Linked DNA regions of Homo sapiens: region 1 is linked to region 2. The links come from fine-mapping of genetic effects on gene expression. A gene starts in region 2. The other region holds a variant in brackets. All regions are shown on one strand. Distances are between the middles of the regions.

The links.
Region 1: its variant is fine-mapped to the expression of CAMP in whole blood (TOPMed, PIP 0.90).

What each region holds. Positions count from the first base shown.
Region 1 is chr3:48,252,215-48,262,522 of GRCh38, forward strand. ZNF589 (zinc finger protein 589) reads left to right here. Exons shown (of 4, transcript NM_016089.3): 3 at 8,599-8,725. It also overlaps the pseudogene MRPS18AP1. Among named protein-coding and RNA genes, the nearest start is that of ZNF589, 16 kb to the left of the region's middle. RefSeq lists an enhancer at 4,086-4,656. The variant C/G (reference allele first, on the strand shown) is at 4,680.
Region 2 is chr3:48,219,630-48,229,937 of GRCh38, forward strand. It overlaps CAMP (cathelicidin antimicrobial peptide), which reads left to right and starts at 3,866. Exons shown (of 4, transcript NM_004345.5): 1 at 3,866-4,083; 2 at 4,725-4,832; 3 at 4,974-5,045; 4 at 5,664-5,856. The coding sequence starts at 3,883. The coding sequence ends at 5,795. RefSeq lists enhancers at 3,211-3,330, 3,351-3,480, 3,491-3,540, 9,558-10,057 and a silencer at 3,550-3,844.

The sequences.
Region 1 (10,308 bases), 33 kb after region 2:
AGATTCTCGCTCTGTCTCCCAGGCTAAAGTGCAGTGGCATAATCTTGGCTCACTGCAACCTCCACCTCCTGGGTTCAAGCGATTCTCCTGCCTCAGCCTCCCTAGTAGCTGGAACTACAGGCACAGGCTGCCATGCACGGCTAATTTTTTGTATTTTTAGTAGAGATGGGGTTTCACCGTGTTAGCCAGGATGGTCTCGATCTCCTGACCTTGTGATCCACCCGCCTCGGCCTCCCAAAGTGCTGGGATTACAGGCATGAGCCACCATGCCCAGCTGTCTTTTGCATTTTTATATAAATATTGAAATCTATCAATTTGAAATTGAAAGTCTTATCAATTTGTACAATGGGATTTTGATTGAATTGCTTTGAATTTTTATATTAGTTTGGGGGAGAATAATATCTTTTTTTTTTTTTTTTTTTTTTTTGAAACGGAGTCTCGCTGTCGCCCAGGCTGGAGTGCAGTGGCAGGATCTCGGCTCACTGCAGGCTCCGCCCCCTGGGGTTCACGCCATTCTCTTGCCTCAGCCTCCCAAGTAGCTGGGACTACAGGCCACTGCCACCTTGCCCGGCTAATTTTTTATATTTTTAGTGGAGACGGGGTTTCACCATGTTATCCAGGATGGTCTCAATCTCCTGACCTCGTGATCCACACGCCTCCCAGAGTGCTGGGATTACAGGCGTGAGCCACTGCGCCCAGCCATGAGAATAATATCTTAACATTATTGAGTTTTCTGGTCCATCAGCGCAGTATCTCTCCATTTATTTAGACAATTTTTTCCTCATTTATGTAGATCTTTATCTTAATAATCTGGGCGTTTTTTATTTTTATTTTTTGAGACAGAAGATCCCTCTGTTTCCCAGGCTGGAGTGCAGTGGTGCAATCTCAGCTCACTGCAGCCTCTACTTCCTAGGTTCAAGTGATTCTCTTGCCTCAGCCTCCTGAGTAGCTGGGATTACAGGCGTGCACCACTACACATAGCTATTTTTTGTATTTTTAGTAGATGGGCTTTTGCCACGTTGGCCAGGCTGGTCCCAAATTTCTGACCTCAAGTGATCCACCTGCCTTGGCTTCCCAAAGTGCTTGGACTACAGGTGTGGGCCACCATGCCCGGCCATCACCGTTAGTATTAATGAACCAATAATAATGGTGGTTATTAACTAAAGTCCAACTTTATTCAGATTTCTTTAGTTTTAATGACCATTTTCTGTCCCAAAATCCCATCCAGGTTATCATGTTACACTTAGTTGTCACGTCTCCAAGGTAGTACTAGTCATATTTTTCTTTTTTTTTTTTTTTTTTTGAGACGGAGTCTCGCTCTGTCGCCCAGGCTGGAGTGCAGTGGCACCATCTCGGCTCGCTGCAAGCTCTGCCTCCCGGGTCCACGCCATTCTCCTGTCTCAGCCTCCCGAGTAGCTGGGACTACAGGCGGCTGCCACCACGCTAGGCTAATTTTTTTTTGTATTTTTAGTAGAGACGGGGTTTCACCGTGTTAGCCAGGATGGTCTCGATCTCCTGACCTCGTGATCCACCCACCTCGGCCTCCCAAAGTGCTGGGATTACAGGCGTGAGCCACCGTGCCCGGCGCTAGTCAGATATTTTGTAGATTGTCCCTTACTTGGGATTTGTTTGATGTTTTCCTCAAGTGAGAGGATTGCTTGAGCCCAGGAGTTCAAGACTAGTCTGAGCAACACAGCAAGAACCCATCTCTATAAAAAATTAAGAAATTTGCTGGGATTGGTGGCATGTACCTGTATCCTAGCTACTTGGGAGGCTGCCGTGGGAGGATCACTTGAGCTCAGGAGTTTAAGGCTACATTGAGCTATTATTATGCCACTGTACTCCAGCCTGGGTGACAGAGCGAGACCTTATCTCTTAAAAAACAAACAAAACAAGCTGGGCGTGGTGGCTCATGCCTGTAATCCCAGCTACTTGGGAGGCTGAGGCAGGAGAATTGCTTGAACCCAGGAAGTGGAGGTTGCGGTGAGCTGAGATCGTGCCATTGCACTCCAGCCTGGGCAACGAGTGAAACTCTGTCTCAAAAAAAAAACTAAACAAAAAATCAGTCGATGTTTGTGTCGGTCATTTCTGGACTCTATTCTGTTCCACTGATCTACTTGCCTTTGTTTTTGCCCATACCACACTGTCTTGATAAATGTAGCTTTATAATAAGTCTTGGAATTGGGTAATATGAATCCTTCAACTTTATTCTTCAGTATTTTGTTAGCTATTCCAGGTCTTTTGTCTTTCCATGTAAACTCTACAATCAGTTTCTCGATAGGTACAAAATAGCTTGCTGAGTTTTTGACTGGGTTTGCATTGAATCTATACATTGAGATCGGAAGAGCTGATATCATAATACTGAGTCTAACTATCCATGAAGATAGACTGTCTTACCATTTGTTTAGATCATCTTTGATTTCTTTCATCATTGTTTGTAGTTTTTCACATGTAGACTATGTACATGTTTTGTTAGAGTTGAACCTAAGTATTTAATTTTTTTGGTGCTCTGTGTGTATGTGTGTGTGTAAAATTTAAAATTCTAATTGTTCATTGCTGGTATATAGGAAAGCAGTTGACATATAGGAAAGCAGATGATCTTATATCCTGCAACCTTTCTATGTTTGCTTATTAGTTCCAAGGTTTTTTTTTTTTATTTCTTTTTGTAGATTCTCTGGAATTTCCTATGTAGACAGTCATGTCATCTGTGAACAAAGACAGCTTTACTTCTTTTCAAATATGTGTACATTTTCTTTTTCTTGTCTCATTGCAATAGCTAGGACTTTCAGTACAATGTTGAACAGGAGTGGTGAGAGAAGACATCCTTGCCTTGTTTCCAGTTATCTAGGAAAAACATCTAGTTTCTTGCTATAAAGTAGGATATTTGTTGTAGGTTTTTTGTAGATGTTCTTTGTCAATTGAGGAAGTTCTGCTGTATTTCTAGTTTGCTGAGAGCTATTACTTCTTTTTTTTTTTTTTTTAAGACAGTCTCACTCTACCTGTCAGGCTGGAGTGCAGCAGCGCCATCTTGGTGCATTGCAACTTCTGCCTCTTGGGTTCAAGTGATTCTTGTGCCTCAGCCTCCCAAGTAGCTGGGATTACAGGTGTGCGCCACCACGCCCAGCTAATTTTTGTATTTTTAGTGGAGACGGGGTTTCACCATGTTGGCCAGGCTGGTCTCAAGCTCCTGACCTCAAGTGATCTGCCTACCTTGGCCTCCCAAAGTGCTGATATTACAGGCGTGAGCCACCATGCCTGGCCAAGAGTTTTTACTTTTTTTTTTTTTTTTTTTTTTTTTGAGACAAAGTCTCGCTCTTTCTCCAGGCTGGAGTGCAGTAGTGCGATCTTGGCTCACCGCAACCTCCGCCTCCCGGGTTCAAGTGATTCTCCTGCCTCAGCCTCCCGAGTAGCCGGTATTACAGGTGCTACCAACCACGCCTGGCTAGCTTTTGTGTTTTCAGTACAGACATGGTTTTGCCACGTTGGCTGGTCCCGAACTTGTAACCTCAGGTGATCTGCCTGCCTTAGCCCCCCAAAGTGCTGTGATTATAGGCAAGAGCCACCATGCCTGGCCAGAGACGGGGTCTTGCCATGTTGCCCAGGCTGGTCTCAAACTCCTGGGCTCAAGCAATCCTCCTGCCTTGACCTCCCAAACTGTTGGGATTACAGGCACAAGCCACCACGCCTGGCAGCTAAGAATTTTTATAATCACTAGATGTTGGGTTTTGTATTTTCTGTATCAAATGATATGATCATATGATTTTGTTTCTTTAGCCTGTTAACATGGTGGATTACAATGATTGATTTTCTTTTCTTTTTTTTTTCAAGCCCATGAGCCTAGTTTATGACATTCCACTGGGCAAAACTCCTGTCCCCAGCACTGAGTATGGCCCAAGCCCCACAGCAATTGCCAAGGGACCCAACTGCCCTGCCTGCCTCTAGCTCCCAGCATTGCTACTGGGGAGGCCAAGGGTACTGAAGTTCATCCCACTGTCCCCTGTCCATACATGTCAGAGGGGCCAGGCCGTCATGGTGGGGTGGGGCAGGAGTATAGTTGTGGCCCAGGGCTTGTGAGTACGCCTCCTACTCCACAGCGCAGGTGCAGGAGGAACTCTGGAAGCTCTTCTGTCTGTGAGTGATACAGCTTCCAAGGTGTCCTTGAGTAGCAGACATTGTCCCTCAGGAGGGTTGACCCCAAGGCCATGAACGCCCTGTTCCAGGGGAGGCCTTTTTTTGTAGATGGGCATGAGGGTGCGGGGACCCCAGTGGGTCAGGTACTGGTTGAATTGGGGTTTGCCCTTTGGAACAACTCCTTCAGGAAGCTGAGGCCTGTGATTTGGTAACAGACCTGCTCGGTAGGCCATCTTCACACACCCCTCAATCTTGCAGTTCTCTTCCCGTCATAGGCCTGTGATCTTTCGGGGCAGCATGCCTCCATGGGGCTGGATGAACTGGCTAAGCAGCAAAACATCATCATAGTTTTACTTGTGGTTCAGGTTCCAGTGGCAGATGGGGCACTGGCCAGAGGGGTTAGGAGGATTTGGACTCTCCTTGGGAGTCGCTGTGATACGGCCTTCAATTATAGTTGTCTTTCCTTCTTGGATTTCCACCACTTCCCTGAAACCACGAGCTGGAAGCTGAGACCAGCTGGTCACTGCTGGGCCTGCTAGGAGCCCACA[C/G]GGAAGCTGCCCACAGCCAGACACCAGAGCCTCAAAGGCCGCCATCTTGAAAAACCAACCCTGACCTCCACAATGATTGATTTTCAAATGTTGAACCAGCTTTGCAGAACTATAATAAACCCAAGTGTGGTATGTAATTCTTCTTGGGCATTTCTGGATTTGATTTTCTTATATTTTGGGAGGGGGTATTGTATCTCTGTGAGATATATTGATCTGTAGTTTTAATTTCTAATGTCTTTATCTAGATTTGCTATTAGGATAATGCTGGATTCATAGGATGGGTTAGGAAATGTTCCCTCTGCTTTGTGTTCTGGAAGAGATGGGGGTCTTCTATAGTAAAAAGTTTTTGTTTTTGTTTTTGTTTTGTTTTTTGTTTTTTGTTTTGAGACAGAGTCTTGCTCTGTCTCCCAGGCTGGAGTGCAGTGGCATGATCTTGGCTCACTGCAACCCCTGCCTCCTGGGTTCAAGCGATTCTCCTGCCTCAGCCTCCCGAGTAGCTGGAATTACAGGCGTGTGCCACCACACCCAGCTAATTTTTGCATTTTTAGTAGAGACGGGATTTCACCATGTTGGCCAGACTGGTCTCTAACTCCTGACCTCAGGTGATCTGCCTGCCTCAGCCTCCCAAAGTGCTAGGATTACAGACGTGAGCCACCGAAAAAAGTTTTAATTTTGGTGAAGTCTGGTTTATTATTATTTTTTTTAATGGATTGTGGTTTTGGTGTCATGTCTAAGAACTCTTTGCCAAGCACTAGGTCCCAATATAGATCTTCTCCTGTATTTTTTCTAGTATTTTTATATTTAAATTCGTGATTCATTTTGATTTTTTTTGTTTTTTGTTTTTAATAAAGTGTGAGGTTTTAGGTTGAGGTTAATTTTTTTGTCTGTGAATATCCAGTTGGTCCAGTGCCATTTGTTGCAAAGTCTATTCTTCATTGAATTACTTTTACAAAAATCCACTTTGGGGTATTTGTGTTGATCTCTTTCTGGGTTTTCGGTTCTCTTCTATTGATCTGTGTGTCTATTCTTCCATAGATACCCTGTCTCAAGTATTGTGGTGATCAAATAGTAAGTTTAATATCAGGTAGCGTGATCTCTCTTACTTTGTTCTTCTAGTTTCTTTGCCTTATCATATATATTAGGATAAGTTGTCTATATCTACAAAAAAATCTGGTTGGGATTTTGATGGGAATTGTGTTAAATCTATAGATCATTTTGGGGAAGATTGACATCTTTACTATGTTGAGCCTTCCAACCCATGAACGTGCTTTGCCTCCCCATTTATCTAGATCTTTGATTTTTTTTTCCATTGGCATTTTGTAGTTTTCAGTGTACAGATGTTATAGTTGTTTTGCTGGAGTTATGTTAGGCACCTCTTTTTTGCGGGAGTGATTGTAAATGGTATGTTTTTAATTTCAGTTTCCACATGGTCGTTGTTAATCTATATGAATACGATGGATTTTTATGTGTTCATCTTGTATCTTTCAGTCCTCCTGGACTCACTTATTAGTTATATGATCATTTTTATAGATTCCTTTGCATTTCCTACATAGAAAACCGTGTCCTTGGCAAATAGGGGTAATTTTATCTCTTCCTTACCAGTCTCTGTGCTTTTTACTTCCTCTTCTTGCCTTGTACTGGACAGAATGTTTGATTACTTTTTGAGAACCAAAAATTATTTACTTATTTTAAAAATCAGTTTTCACTTAAATATAAAACATTCTATTGCTTAGTTATAGCAAATTGTAATAGCAAGTGTTTACTGCATGTGAGGCATTGATGTCAGTGCTTTATCTTTATTAAGACAGTAGGTGTCATTATCAAGCCCATTTTATAGATGTGGAAACTAAGACACAGAGAGGTTATGTAAGCTTCCAAAGGTCATGTATTGTATAAGTGGCAAAGCTGGGATTTGGACTTGTGCGGTCTGACTCCATAGATTGGGCTCCTACTACATCCACTGAGCAAAAAGCCTAGCTTCCATTGTAGCTGAGCCTGTTGTTTTATGTTTCAGTGGAAAAACTAGAGGGGGAAGAGGAGTCAAGAGAGAAATGGAGAGGATATTGGAACATGAGAGACACAAGGCTTGAACAAGAGAAATTATGAGACCTGGGGTATAAAAAGAAAAGGGGAAAGATCACTGAGAATATGAGAACCAGGATGTGCCTGAAGCAGCAGGTCATGGAAAGCATGTAAGGGACAGCAGCCCACACCACTGCCCGCTCAGGCCTTGGCTGCCTAATCCTGGGTCCTGGCCTGCTGTCTAGACTTTTTGTCCTCCCTCGTACACTGTGCCACGCGGCCTGACTGCCTGGGCTGCTGGCTATAGATGTGACATCCCTCCCAAAACTTCTCACACACTCAAGGATTTCAGTATCTACACCTAGTTTCCTACTCTTAGCTCAGCATCATTATTATTCTCTACTGCTTCTGCACTTCTGTGCTGGGTTTTATTAAATCTCTTTTATAGTCCAGCTCTCAGGGGAGGATGCTAGGAAGCTCTGGCTTGGTAGCCTTGCACTGTGTTTCCTTCAGCCCCTACTGTCATCTTTGATTTGCTAGAAGCTTAATTAGTTTAGCTTTAGAACCTGGAATATACATTACCAACTCCTAGAGTGCCAAGGACCACTTGGAAGGTGGACAAGAAGATTGATGTATACCTGAGAATAGGAGGAAGAAGCTGAGTCAGAGAAGAGGTACTCAGGGTAATCAGAGGCAGCTGGGAATAATGTGCAACTGTTCCCAAAGTCTGCAGAGTGAAGTTAAAATTCTAAAGCAAGTCCGAGGCCGGCAGATCACTTGAGGTCGGGAATTGGAGACTAGCCTGGCCAACATGGTGAAATCCCATCGCTACTAAAAACAAAATACAAAAAAAATTAGCCAGGTGTGGTGGTATGCACCTGTGGTCCCAGCTACTTGGGAGGCTGAGGCAGGAGAATTGCTTGAACCCGGTAGGCAGGGGCTGCAGTGAGCCAAGATCACGCCACTGCAGTTCGGCCTGGGTGACAGAGTGAGACTCCGTATCAAAAAAAAAAAAAAAAAAATCTAGGGCAAGTTAGGAGTGTCATGGAATACCCATAGGCTGAAGCAGTTGGTCACTGAGCAAATAATGCTTGAATTCAGTAGAAGTTGATTGGTGACTCCCTTGGTATCTGAGGGCAATGCCACCTTTCAAGTGTAACTAAAGATAGAACACCACTGAATACTCATTTAGAAGAGAAGAGACTTGAAGATGAAAAAGCATATGGTGTATGTTTTTTTGAGACAGGGTCTCGCTCTGGTCACCCAGGCTGGAGTGCAATGGTGCGATCTCAGCTCACTGTAGCCCTGACCTCCTGGGATCAGGCAATCCTCCTACCTCAGCCTCCTGGGTAGCTGGAACTACAGGTGCACACCACCATACTTGGCTAATTTTTGTTTATTTTTCATAGAGACAGGGTCTCACTGTGTTGCTCAGGCTAGTCTTGAACTCTTGGGCTCAAGCAATCCTCTCATGTCAGCCTCCCAAGTAGCAGATCCATTTTTTTCTTTTTGAGGCGGAGTCTCACTCTGTCACCCACGCTGGAGTGCAATGGAGTGATCTTGGTTTACTGCCACCTCTGCCTCTCAGGTTCAAGTGATTCTCCTGCCTCAGCCTCCCAAGTAGCTGGGACTACAGGCGTGTGCTACCACGCCCAGCTAATTTTTGTATTTTTAGTGGAGACAGCGTTTCACCATATTGGCCAGTCTGGTCTCGAACTCCTGACCTCAAGATAACCTCCCACCTCGGCCTCCCAAAGTGCTAGGATTGCAGGTGTGAGCCACCGTGCCCGGCCTAGATCAATTTCTTATGTAGCTAGATGCTCCAAGACCACCAGTTCCATTTTCACTGTGAATCTTAATGGTGACTTGATGAATATGAATTTATCGGTTGATTTAGGGACCAGTGACTTTCGAGGATGTGGCTGTGCTTTTCACTGAGGCAGAGTGGAAGAGACTGAGCCTTGAGCAGAGGAACCTATACAAAGAAGTGATGCTGGAAAATCTCAGGAATCTGGTCTCATTGGGTAAGGACATGTTCTCTTCCTTCATTTTTCCATTCAAGTATTTACTGACCATATTCAGTGTGCCAGCCAATGTTTTAATCTCTTAGAACATATCAGTGAATAGAATAATAAAGCATTTCTTCTCTCGTGGAGCTTATATTCTAGTATAGGTAGACTGACAATATACAATAAGCAGCATATATAGGTAAATTATATATGTCAAAGGATAATAAGTGCTACATAGCTAAAAAAAAATGTATAAGATATATATAAATATAAGTAGAGTAGATTAAGGGAGATCTGAAGTGCCGGGTGTGGAGGCAACTGGCTGAACTTTTAAATTGCATGATCAAGGTAGGCCTCTATGAGGAAGTACATTTGAGCAAAGGCTTGAAGGAGGTGAGGAGGTTGGATATGTGGGTCAGGTGGGAAACTGCTCCAGACAAGGGGAAAGCAGTGCCAAGGCCCTGGAGGCAGGAGCATATCTAGTCCTTTGGAGGAAAAGCAAGGAGGCCAAGGTGGTTGGAGTACAGAGAACAAGGAGGAGAATAGTAAGAGATGCCTTCTATGACCTAGAAGTTGGAAATGTTTAACGTTTAAGGTATAAATCTGTCAGTTTGATGTTTTATAGATTACTGGATATCATACATCATGTTTTTATTCACTTATTTAAAAACTAAAACTGATTACTAGGTTAGCAAATACAAAATTATTCTGGATATTCCTGAGTTCTTGATGAGAGTCAGATTTTCAAAGTTCCTCACATTTCTCTCAGCATCTTTCTCAAGGTTTGTCTTCATCTGGCATAGCTATGAATTACATAGTTCTGATTTGTTCTCTTTGCATCTGCTTAGACCTATTTTGCACTGCTTTAATCTAATTTGAATTGGCCTCATTTCAATCCTAGTTGCCTATTTCTGTTTCAGTGTAGGTTCATCCATTTAAGTTAGCTTTCAATTGGCCAATCTGATTTGGTCTTGTTTCATCTGGTCTTGTTACTCTTTATCTTTATGCTCATACATTTTGTTGATTCTGAAGAATATGTTAAAATTGCCTTAAAATAATCTGATTCAAATTAATCTTGACCCTGAAACTTTGGATCTCACTGTATCCATTTCAGGTGTTAAACTGTTTTCATCCTTGATCCATCTTTCCCTTTCTCTCTACATCACTTTTTCTCTTATTGCTGAATTATTTAAAGCAAATCTCAAATATCATGACATACCACTCCTTTATATCACAGTGCAACTCCAATAAATAAGGACATTTTATTTTATTTATTTTTTTTGAGATGGAGTTTCATTCTCATTGCCCAAGCTGGAGTGCAGTGATGCGATCTTGGCTCACTGCAACCTTTACCTTCTGGGTTCAAGTGATTCTCCTGCCTCAGCCTCCCGAGTAGCTGGGATTACAGGCGCGCATCACCACAGCCGGCTAATTTTTTGTATTTTTAGTAGAAACGGGGTTTCACCATGTTAGCCAGTCTGGTCTCGAACTCCTGACCTCAGGTGATCTGCCCGCCTCAGCCTCCCAAAGTGCTGGGATTACAGGTATGAGCCACTGTGCCCGGCTTCACATTTTCTTATATAACCACAGTATCATGA
Region 2 (10,308 bases):
ACATCGGTATGCAGATACACAGCTGGTCGCAGCAGGGCTGAGCCAGGAACCCAGTCAGCCTCATGAGGGAACCTGGGCTCTTTGCCTGCAAAGCCCTGGGCTTTCTGTGCTGACTATAGATTCTGGGCACAGGGAGGGACAGGGACAGTGACTCACCCACAGAGACAGAGGCTGGTGACGAATATGGTTCCTGGGATTCCCATCCCAGGACTCCCTCCCCAGTGCTCCCCAAGGGGATGAACAAACTGCCTGCTTGGTTCTCTACTTTTCAGACAAGTTGGCCATTCTGATGAAGGCTGTCTCAGGGGCAAGCAGGCCTGAGGAGGTGGGTGCTTCCACCAGGACAACCAGGGCTGCAGACACGGAGCCAGAGAGGGAACGCAGAGTGGGGGCTAAGCTGGGCTTTGTTCGCCAATGGGGGAGGGATTGTGGAGTGGGAGAGGGTAGCTCCAGCATCTGCTCATCTGTGGAAAGTCTCTCAGAGCCTTCAGCAGTCCCAGTGCACCAGGTTCCCTGATCACATTGTGTAGGAGTTGGAGCCTCCTGGGTCTGCAGGAGAGGAAGGGGCCACTTAGAGAAGTCAGGGTGGGAGATTCAGAGAGAGAGAGGAAAGAGAGAGAGATAGAGAGACAGAGGGACAGGGGCTGCCCAGGCCTTTGTGAAGGGACATTTATCTAGCCCTCAAGTCTTGATGTGGAAAAGCCTAACTTTTTTTTTTTTTTTGAGACGGAGTCTTACACTCTTGCCCAGGCTGGAGTGCAGTGGCGCCATCTCAGCTCACTGCAAGCTCCGCCTCCTGGGTTCACACCATTCTCCTGCCTCAGCCTCCCAAGTAGCTGGGACTACAGGCGCATGCCACCACACCCAGCTAGAGACGGGGTTTCACTGTGTTAGCCAGGATGGTCTCAATCTCCTGACCTCATGATCAGGCCACCTCGGCCTTCCAAAGTGCTGGGATTACGGGCGTGAGCCACCGCGCCCGGCTAAGCCTCACTTTTCTTTTCTCATTCCGCCTTGCCTAGAATCTTCTGATCACTCTATTAATGGGGTGAGCCATTATGAAAAAGGCGAGCTGGTGAGAGCCTCCTTTCTCCCTCTCTAGGAGGAAGGGGCAGCCATGGGTTCTAAAGGTCTGAAGTCAGCCGCCCTACCTCAGGTAGTGGACACCGACCTGCATGTGCCGAGGGCAGGACTCACTCCTGGAACCTGGGAAGCCTGGACCTTGTGCGATGGCCCTGAGAGGGAAAGCAAGTGCCCCTGAGTCCAGACTTCTGCAGTTGTATCAGAGGGCCTATGCAAGCTGCTTGGGCTCTGGCTGATTTCATGTGAGGGCGTGTCCAGCACTGGCCGAAGTGGAACGTCCTCTTGAGGCAGTTGGAAAGGGGCTCTGAATATGCCAGATCTGACCTAGAGGAACACAGGAGCATGCAGCTCTCACGCCCTAGCCTAAGGACTAACATTGCCATCTGCTTCTCCCCGGTTTGGCTTCTTGGGGATCCTGAAGCCAGTCAGAAGGGTGGAGGAAGCAGGAGAGCCCTGAGAGGTCTGATATCCCTGGATGGCCCTTTTCCCAACAGCCATAAAAGACCTGATGTGCAAGCCCTGCTTGACCAACAGGCCACTGGGGCAACACTTGAACTGTGAAACCAGGTTGCACAGAAGCCCACTTCTTCCTTCTCTCAAGGCCAGGTGTGCAACCGGTGGCCTTCGTCCAGGCTTCCACCTTCCAGGAGCCCTGCTGTCCAAGCCCCCAAGTGTCCCACAGGCCAACTGAGGTCAAGAGGTACCCCAGGCCTCAGGGCCACATGGCCAGTCCACAGAGGAGCTGGGACCGGAATTTGCCTCATGGACGCTGGACCCCTCTATCACTTTGGCCCTTTATCTCTCCTGGCTGTGATCTCTCCCTCTCCCAACACCAGCCACCCATCCCAGCTTGGTGTCTCAGCTAGAGCACCAAACAGGGAGTAATTTGAGGTCGAATCAGGAGAGACTTCCTGGAAGATGTAGGGGCAAAGAGGAGATTGCTGTGCCTGGTTGGAGGTCAGGGAAAGCTTCATGAGGTGAAAGGGCAGGCCAAACAGAAGGATCGGGGCAGAGCTGGGAGAAAGAGCAGGAGGCTCAGATGAGCCTATGTGATGGGGGCATACGTGACAGTCTGGCACTTGCAGTGTGCAGGGCTGGGGTGAGGGCAGTGGGAACCAAAAGGCCACAGGCCCTGATGCCAGCCTAGGGGGTGTGTGGGCTCCTGAAGGTAGAGGGTTGAAATGGCCAAATTGGTGGTTTAAAGGAACCCCTGGACAACGGTGTGGAGGGTGGACTGTGGTCTGGGGAGAGCCTGAAACCTAGAGAAGGTGGAGTCTGGAGGCTGGGGCAGCATTGCATGGGAGAGAAGATGGCGGCAGGAGCCAGGCAGGGGTGGAAGGAGAGGCCAGAGGGGAGTGCTTTCGGGAGGAAGGAGCCAAAGGTGCTTCAGGGCTCATGCAGTGGGCACTCAGCAGAAGAGCAGTCAAGGAGGCCCAGTGGGGACAACCGGGACGTTCATGGGAGTCTCGAACTCAGAGATACAGACTGGGTGGTGTCTGCCTATTATAACTGGTGTCCTGGGAGAGGGCGTCCCCAGGGAAACCCGAGGCCAGGGAAGAGAAGCAGCCCAGGAGGTGACCCCACACGCTCTCAATATTAAGAAGACAGCCCTTAGGGGAGACCAAGAAGGAGCCACCAGGGAGGCAGGAGGGACAGCAGGAGAGTGGCATCAGGGGAGACCGGGGCAGCAAGAAGGAAGGCTCACCAGTGCCTGTGCAGACAAAGACCAGGCTTGAGGGTGGCCATGGACCAAGGGTGGGTTGGCCAGCCTTCAGTGGCCTTCAGCATGAAGAAGAGTGAAAAGATGGGGTCAAGAAGCGTAGACAACCTTTCCTAAGACTTGGCTTGGGAGAAGCCATGGTGAAAGGCCATGTCTGGAGGGGCTTGGGAACATTTTGAGACTGAAAAAAACAGTGAAGAAGGATGCAGAAGGGGATAGATGGAGCAGAGCCTTCGTCTGGCTGACGGCTGGGTCCAGAGAGCATGTGGTATGGCCTTGAACTGAAAGGGCAACTTGTCCCTTGCAAGAGTGAGTCTCTAGGTTGGGGGTGGCTACTGTCTTCATTTACCAGTTCTTTTTTTTTTTTTTCATACTGAGTCTCACTCTGTTACCCAGGCTGGAGTGCAGTGGCATGATCTCAGCTAACTGCAACTTCTGCTTCCCGGGTTCAATGGGTTCAAGTGATTCTCATGCCTCAGCTTGTAGCTGGGACTACAGGTGTGAGCCATCATGCGTGGCTAATTTTCATATTTTTAGTAGAGATGGGGTTTCACCATGTTGGCCAAGCTTGTCTCGAACTCCTTATCTCAGGTGATCCGCCCACCTTGGCCTCCCAAAGTGCTGGGATTATAGGCGTGAGCCACCGTGCCCTGCCTCATTCATCAATTCTTAATCGATGCCTACAGGGTGCCAGGCAATGCCTAGAGCTGGAGATTTAGCAGTCCATCATACTGACTCCTGAGGAGTAGAAGGATGTAGAATAGGCACCTGGCTCTCTTCCTCTCTGGAGGGATTTAACGCTCTTGAGCACCCCTGGCTATGACAATCTCCGGTCAGGTCTGGGAGGTTGTCAGAGATGAAGAAACCACTTCCTCATCTTGCACACAAGGAAGGCCTCACTCACTGCCCAGCAAGTCCTGTGAAGCAATAGCCAGGGGCTAAAGCAAACCCCAGCCCACACCCTGGCAGGCAGCCAGGGATGGGTGGATCAGGAAGGCTCCTGGTTGGGCTTTTGCATCAGGCTCAGGCTGGGCATAAAGGAGGCTCCTGTGGGCTAGAGGGAGGCAGACATGGGGACCATGAAGACCCAAAGGGATGGCCACTCCCTGGGGCGGTGGTCACTGGTGCTCCTGCTGCTGGGCCTGGTGATGCCTCTGGCCATCATTGCCCAGGTCCTCAGCTACAAGGAAGCTGTGCTTCGTGCTATAGATGGCATCAACCAGCGGTCCTCGGATGCTAACCTCTACCGCCTCCTGGACCTGGACCCCAGGCCCACGATGGTGAGCTTTGGGGGACATTCTGCTCTGCTCTGGCTGGGCTTGGCCACGTGTTGTTCCTTCTGCTCCTGCTGCACTGCCTGCCAGGAGGGCATCTCCCCCTTTAAATGTGGTCCCGTGTTTTCCAGGGAACCTTCTAGAGCTCGTGTCTCCTCCCAGCTCGAGAGCTTCCTGCCTTATAATTCCTGCTGTGGCAGAGATACCCTCACCCCGACCCCACGCAGGTTTTGGGACTTCTGCGAGCTCCAGGCACTAGAATGGGGTCATTGGCTCTGGGCAGTGACCTCCTCTGCTTTAAGTCTCTTCTGTACCACGTTACCCCACATAGGGAAGAACTCTATCCAGACTTTAGGTTCCAGTGGGCATGTCTTGTCCCCCAGGAAGCCCCCTGACTTCCCTTGCCCCCACCCCAGAGTGGGAGGGGCTCCTTGTTAGAGCTCATCTGAGGTCTGCTCCTACTCACTGTTCACCTAGGAGGGTAGGAATGGCTCAGTCCTCCTCCCCTCAATGCCCCAGTGCCAAGCCCAGCACCCAGTGCCCGTCGCACATCAGGTACTGTGGAAAGCCTGCCCTCTTGGTGGGGAGGTCATGGACACAAATCAGAAAATACAAGAATGGGCCTCCCCATTTCCTCCTCTGACTAGGATGGGGACCCAGACACGCCAAAGCCTGTGAGCTTCACAGTGAAGGAGACAGTGTGCCCCAGGACGACACAGCAGTCACCAGAGGATTGTGACTTCAAGAAGGACGGGGTGAGGCTGGGGGCTGGGGGTGTTGGTGGGTGCCTCCCAAGGAGCTGAACAGGGGGCACCTGGGGAATATTTCCCACTGGGATGTGGCTGGGAGGTCATGGCAAATGGTTTCAAGTTTGACCTTGAGCTTCTCCTTTCCAGCTGGTGAAGCGGTGTATGGGGACAGTGACCCTCAACCAGGCCAGGGGCTCCTTTGACATCAGTTGTGATAAGGTGAGTGGGCTGTTCTGGGATGCAGGGGCTGATGGGGGCATAGAGTGTGGACCATCCAATGGGTCAATTAACTACTCCCCCAACCCAGGACAGAGAAAGCCCCTCCTACCCAGGGCTCTTCCCCAAACCTGAGTTCCATCTCCAGGGCCGGCTCTGGAATCCCTTAGAGCGGTAGATCTCCAAGTGTAGCCCTTCCTGGGGACTCGTTAGATATGCAAATTCTCAGGCCCTACTCAGACCTACTCAGACAGACTCTGGGTAGGGCCCAGAAATTCGTATTTTGATAAGCTTTCCAGGAGATTCCGGCTTCTGTAAAGTTTGAGAGCCACTGTCTAAGAGTACTCAGCTCTCAGCCCTGTGTTCCCATCTCAGTGTTGCTGGGCTGGGCTGTGTGACCCTGCAGAGCCCCTCACTATCTCCGGGACTCTGTTTTCTCATCTTTTTATTGGGTGTAGGGATTCAATCACATGCTTCAAAGGTCACAGCCAGAGGTTGAACTGGGGCCCCAAAGCTCCTGCGGGGGCCCACGAAGAGGGGCGTCTAGGTGGGGAGGGGTCTTGGATTGACCCTGGGTACATCCCCGACAAGGAACCTGTTTCTTCCTGTACACAACCCCAGGATAACAAGAGATTTGCCCTGCTGGGTGATTTCTTCCGGAAATCTAAAGAGAAGATTGGCAAAGAGTTTAAAAGAATTGTCCAGAGAATCAAGGATTTTTTGCGGAATCTTGTACCCAGGACAGAGTCCTAGTGTGTGCCCTACCCTGGCTCAGGCTTCTGGGCTCTGAGAAATAAACTATGAGAGCAATTTCCTCAGGCTTCAGTCTCACTTGTTTTGCCTCCTCTCTCTCACCACAACTGAGCCCTTAGCTCAGGGAGTCCACGTGTGAGTGTGAGTGTGTGTGAGTGTGACACAGAGGTGGCGAGGGCAGTGTTCCATCCAGGAGGACACAGGGTAAGGCAGTAGGGCCAAGAGATCCAAGATGGCATTCCCATTCTCAGTGGAACCCCCAGTGGGGAATTAAGGAGCTCTACTCTGTGTGTGGTGGTGGGGGAATGCTGTGGAGCTGTTCCTGCTCATGGGGAGGTGACATTCAAGGGAGGGGCCAAGCGTGTTGTTAACACTCAGAGAAGCATGGTCCAGTCCCATGGGTGGCTGGCCAACTGGGTGCGGTCTCCCTGCAGGTACAATTCCCATAAAATTCCAATGCTTCCTAAAAGACTTAACTCAGGAAAGCCCATAACTCCTGGCATTTCCTCTGGCATTGGGACACATCACAGTTTCTTCAGGTGGGTAGCAGATTTAACTTGTGAGCTTGTGTTTAGGGATTGTTAAAAACAAGAATATGGCCAGACGTGGTGGCTCACACCTGTAATGCCAGGACTTTGGGAAGCGAGGCGGGTGGATTGCTTGAGGTCAAGAGTTTGAGACCAGCCTGGGCAACATAACAAACCCTGTCTCTACTAAAAATACAAAAATGAGCTGGGCATGGTGGTGCGTGCCTGTAGTCCCAGCTACTCGGGAGGCTGAGGTGGGAGGATTGCTTGAGCCTGGAAGGCAGAGGTTGCAGTGAGCTGAGATTGCGCCACTGCACTCCAGCCTGGGTGACAGGGTGAAACAAAGGTGACTGGGCTCATAAAAACCAAAAACCTGCCAGGCGTGGTGGCTCATGCCTGTAATCCCAGCACTTTAGGAGGCTGAGGCTGGTTGATCACCTGAGGTTGGGAGTTTGAGACCAGCCTGACCAACATGGAGAAACCCTGTCTCTACTAAAGTGGCAAAAATTAGCCAGGCATGGTGGCACATGCCTGTAATCCCAGCTACTTGGAAAGGCTGAGGCAGGAGAATCGCCTGAACAGGAGGCGGAGGTTGTGGTGAGCCAAGATCGTGCCACTGCACTCCAGCTGGGCAACAAGAGCGAAACTCCATCTCAAAAAAATAAAATAAAATAAAATAAAAACCAAAGACCAAGAATATGTTGGGTGTGGTGGTGCACACCTGTAATCCCAGGTACTTGGGAGGCTCAGGTGGGAGGGTCACTTGAGCCCAGGAGTTCAAGGCTGCAGTGAGCTATGATCATGCTAGTTCACTCCAGCCTGGGCAAAGGAGTGAGACCTCGTCTCTAAAACAAGCAAACAAACAAAAAAAGGAGAATCCTGCTCAGTGGAGTGAGGTGCTGTGGCTAGAAGAGACATGCAGAGTGTGACACACAGGTCGCGACTCTGTTGTGCTGGTGTTTCAGACATGGATCGTGTTCTCCCCACTCACCATTCTGTAGCCACTAGAAGCACCTGCAGCTTTTTGCTATGGGGTTGCTCAACTGGAAGTACTGGGAAGTCTATGCGCCAGGGAGCAGCCTCAACCAATGATAGGTGGGAGCTGGTGGAAAAATATTTGTTCTTCTCACCCGTGGGGGGCACACTCAGAGGTGTGTTTCACATCTCCCAGAGGTCCCCAGGTGGGCTACCCTCAACAAAGACCTGTTCATGACCACATCCTCTTCTGACTTGTTCGTTCCCTGTCTCACTTCTCTACACTCCTGCAGGTGCTTTCTGTAGTTGCTTCCCAAATACACTACTCTCACTTAAATCCTTAACTCAGGTCTGCTTCCAGGCCAACCTAAACTAAGACACAGGCATCCCTCTCTGAGAGGAAGAGAAGGCAAAACCTCACAAGAACACTTGCTTTGTTTTCTGTTATGCTTGCTTCTTCTTTTCTTTTTTGAGATGGGGTCTCACTATGTTACCCAGGCTGGTCTTGAATTCCTGAGCTCAAGCGATCTTCTTGCCTCAATTCCCAAAGCGTGAGCCACTGTGCCCTGCCCATGCTTGCTTCTTCATGACGAGCAGGTGTGGCTGATTTCAAGCAGGTTGGAGGAGGTAGATGCTTCTCACTCTGTATCATTACAGAGTGCTAGAGAGAGTTCTAGGGAGGAAACTCAGGGGCATATGCTGTGTCAGAGCCAATTGTTAAATTTTCAGGAATTTTTTTTTTTGAGACGGAGTCTCTCTCTGTCACCCAGGATGGAGTGCAGTGGCGTGATTTCGGCTCACTGCAAGCTCCGCCTCCCGGGTTCACACCATTCTCCTGCCTCAGCCTCCCGAGTAGCTGGGACTACAGGCGCCTGCCACCACTCCTGGCTAATTTTTTGTATATTTAGTAGAGACGGGGTTTCACTGTGTTAGCCAGGATGGTCTCGATCTCCTGACCTTGTGATCTGCCTGCCTTGACCTCCCAAAGTGCTGGGATTACAGGCATGAGCGACTGCGCCCGGCCTAAATTTTCAGGACTTTTTTGAGCTCGGTGTTAAATTCTTGGCGGCTTAAAATTGGCCATGGTGGGAGGCAGTATTTACACCATGGAAATCTGCAAATGCTGCAAAGCAGCATCCCCAACCCCAGCTGTCACACCACTGCCCAAACTGAGGGAGGGGTCACTCACAAGGATACCAAGAGCCTGTGCCGACTGCATCTATTTCCAGTTTCCTCCCATGATTATCCATCCTGCTACCGTGACAACCCTCTTATTACCCCTGCCCTGCCTTGCTCTTTGATAGTCTACATGGGCGTTAATGAGATGGCCCTCGTCATGAACCAGATAGATATAATCCAGGCTGGATTTTTTTTTTCAAGACGGACTCTTGCTCTGTCACCCAGGCTGGAGTGCAGTGGCGTGATCTCGGCTCGCTGCAACCTCTGCCTCCCGGGTTCAAGCAGTTCTCCTGCCTCAGCCTCCAGAGTAGCTGGGATTACAGGTGCCCGCCACGCACTCAGCTAATTTTTGTATTTTTAGTAGAGATGGGGTTTCACCATGTTGAGCAGGCTGGTCTTGAACTCCTGACCTCATGATCCGCCTGCCTCAGCCTCCCAAAGTGCTAGGATTACAGGTGTGAGCCACTGCACCTGGCCTTGGATTTTAATATTATACATTCATTGCTATTATAGTCATTTTAATCTTCTGATTTCATTTTATTTATTTATTTATTTTTTGAGATGGGGTCTCACTCTGTTACCCAGGCTGGAGTGCAGTGGCAGGATCTTGGCTCACTGCAACCTCCACCTCCCAGGCTCATGCAATCCTCCCACTTCAGCCTCCCGAGTAGCCAGAACCACAGGTGTGCACTACCACGCCCGGCTTATTTTTTGTATTTTTAGTAGAGACAAGGTTTCACCATGTTGCCCAGGCTGGTCTCAAACTCCTGAGTTCAAGTGATCTACCCACCTCGGCCTCCCAAAGTGCTGGGATTACAGGCGTGAGCTACCACGCCCGGCCCAGTATCTTGATTTTTAGCATGCAGACTAGTTTTACCTGATTTTGAACTTTATTTATTTTATTTTTTATTTTTATTTTTTATTTTTTTTTGAGATGGAGTTTCACTCTTGTTGCCCATGCTGGAGTGTAATGGGGCGATCTCGGCTCACTGCAACCTCCGCCTCTTGGGTTCAAGTGATTCTCCCGCCTCAGCCTCCCGAGTAGCTAGGATTACAGGCATGCACCACCACGCTGGCTAATTTTTTTTTTTTTTTTTGAGACAGAGTCTCGCTCTGTTGCCCAGGCTGGAGTGCAGTGGTGCAGTGTGGGCTTACTGCAACCTCAGCCTCCCAGGTTCAAGCAATTCTCCTGCCTCAGTCTCCAAAGTAGCTGGGACTACAGGCGCGTGCCATCACACCTGGCTAATTTTTTGCATTTTTAGTAGAGACAGAGTTTCATCGTATTAGCCAGGATGGTCTTGATCTCCTGACCTCATGATCCACCCACCTTGACCTCTCAAAGTGCTGGGATTACAGGTGTGAGCCGCCGTTCCCGACCTAATTTTGTATTTTTAGTGGAGACGGGGTTTCTCCATGTTGGTCAGGCTGGTCTTGAACTCATGACTTTGGGTGAACCGCCCGCCTTGGCCTCCCAAAGTGCTGTGATTACAAGCGTGAGCCACAACGCCCAGACTTGATTTTGAACTTTAAATAAGTGGAATGATATGATACATATTCTTTTTCCTGGCTTCTCTCTCTTCATATTATGTTGGTGAGATCACCTCTGTTGATGATGTGAGGTAGAGATCAAGTTTCTTTTTTTCTTTTTTCATACGGATATCTAATTGACCCAGCACCTTTTATTGAAATAATTATTTCCCAACCCCGACATATTTTTTTTTTTTTTTGAGATGGAGTCTCGCACTCTCGCCCAGGCTGGAGTGCAGTGGCGCCATCTCGGCTCACTGCAAGCTCCGCCTCCTGGGTTCACGCCCTTCTCCTGCCTCAGCCTC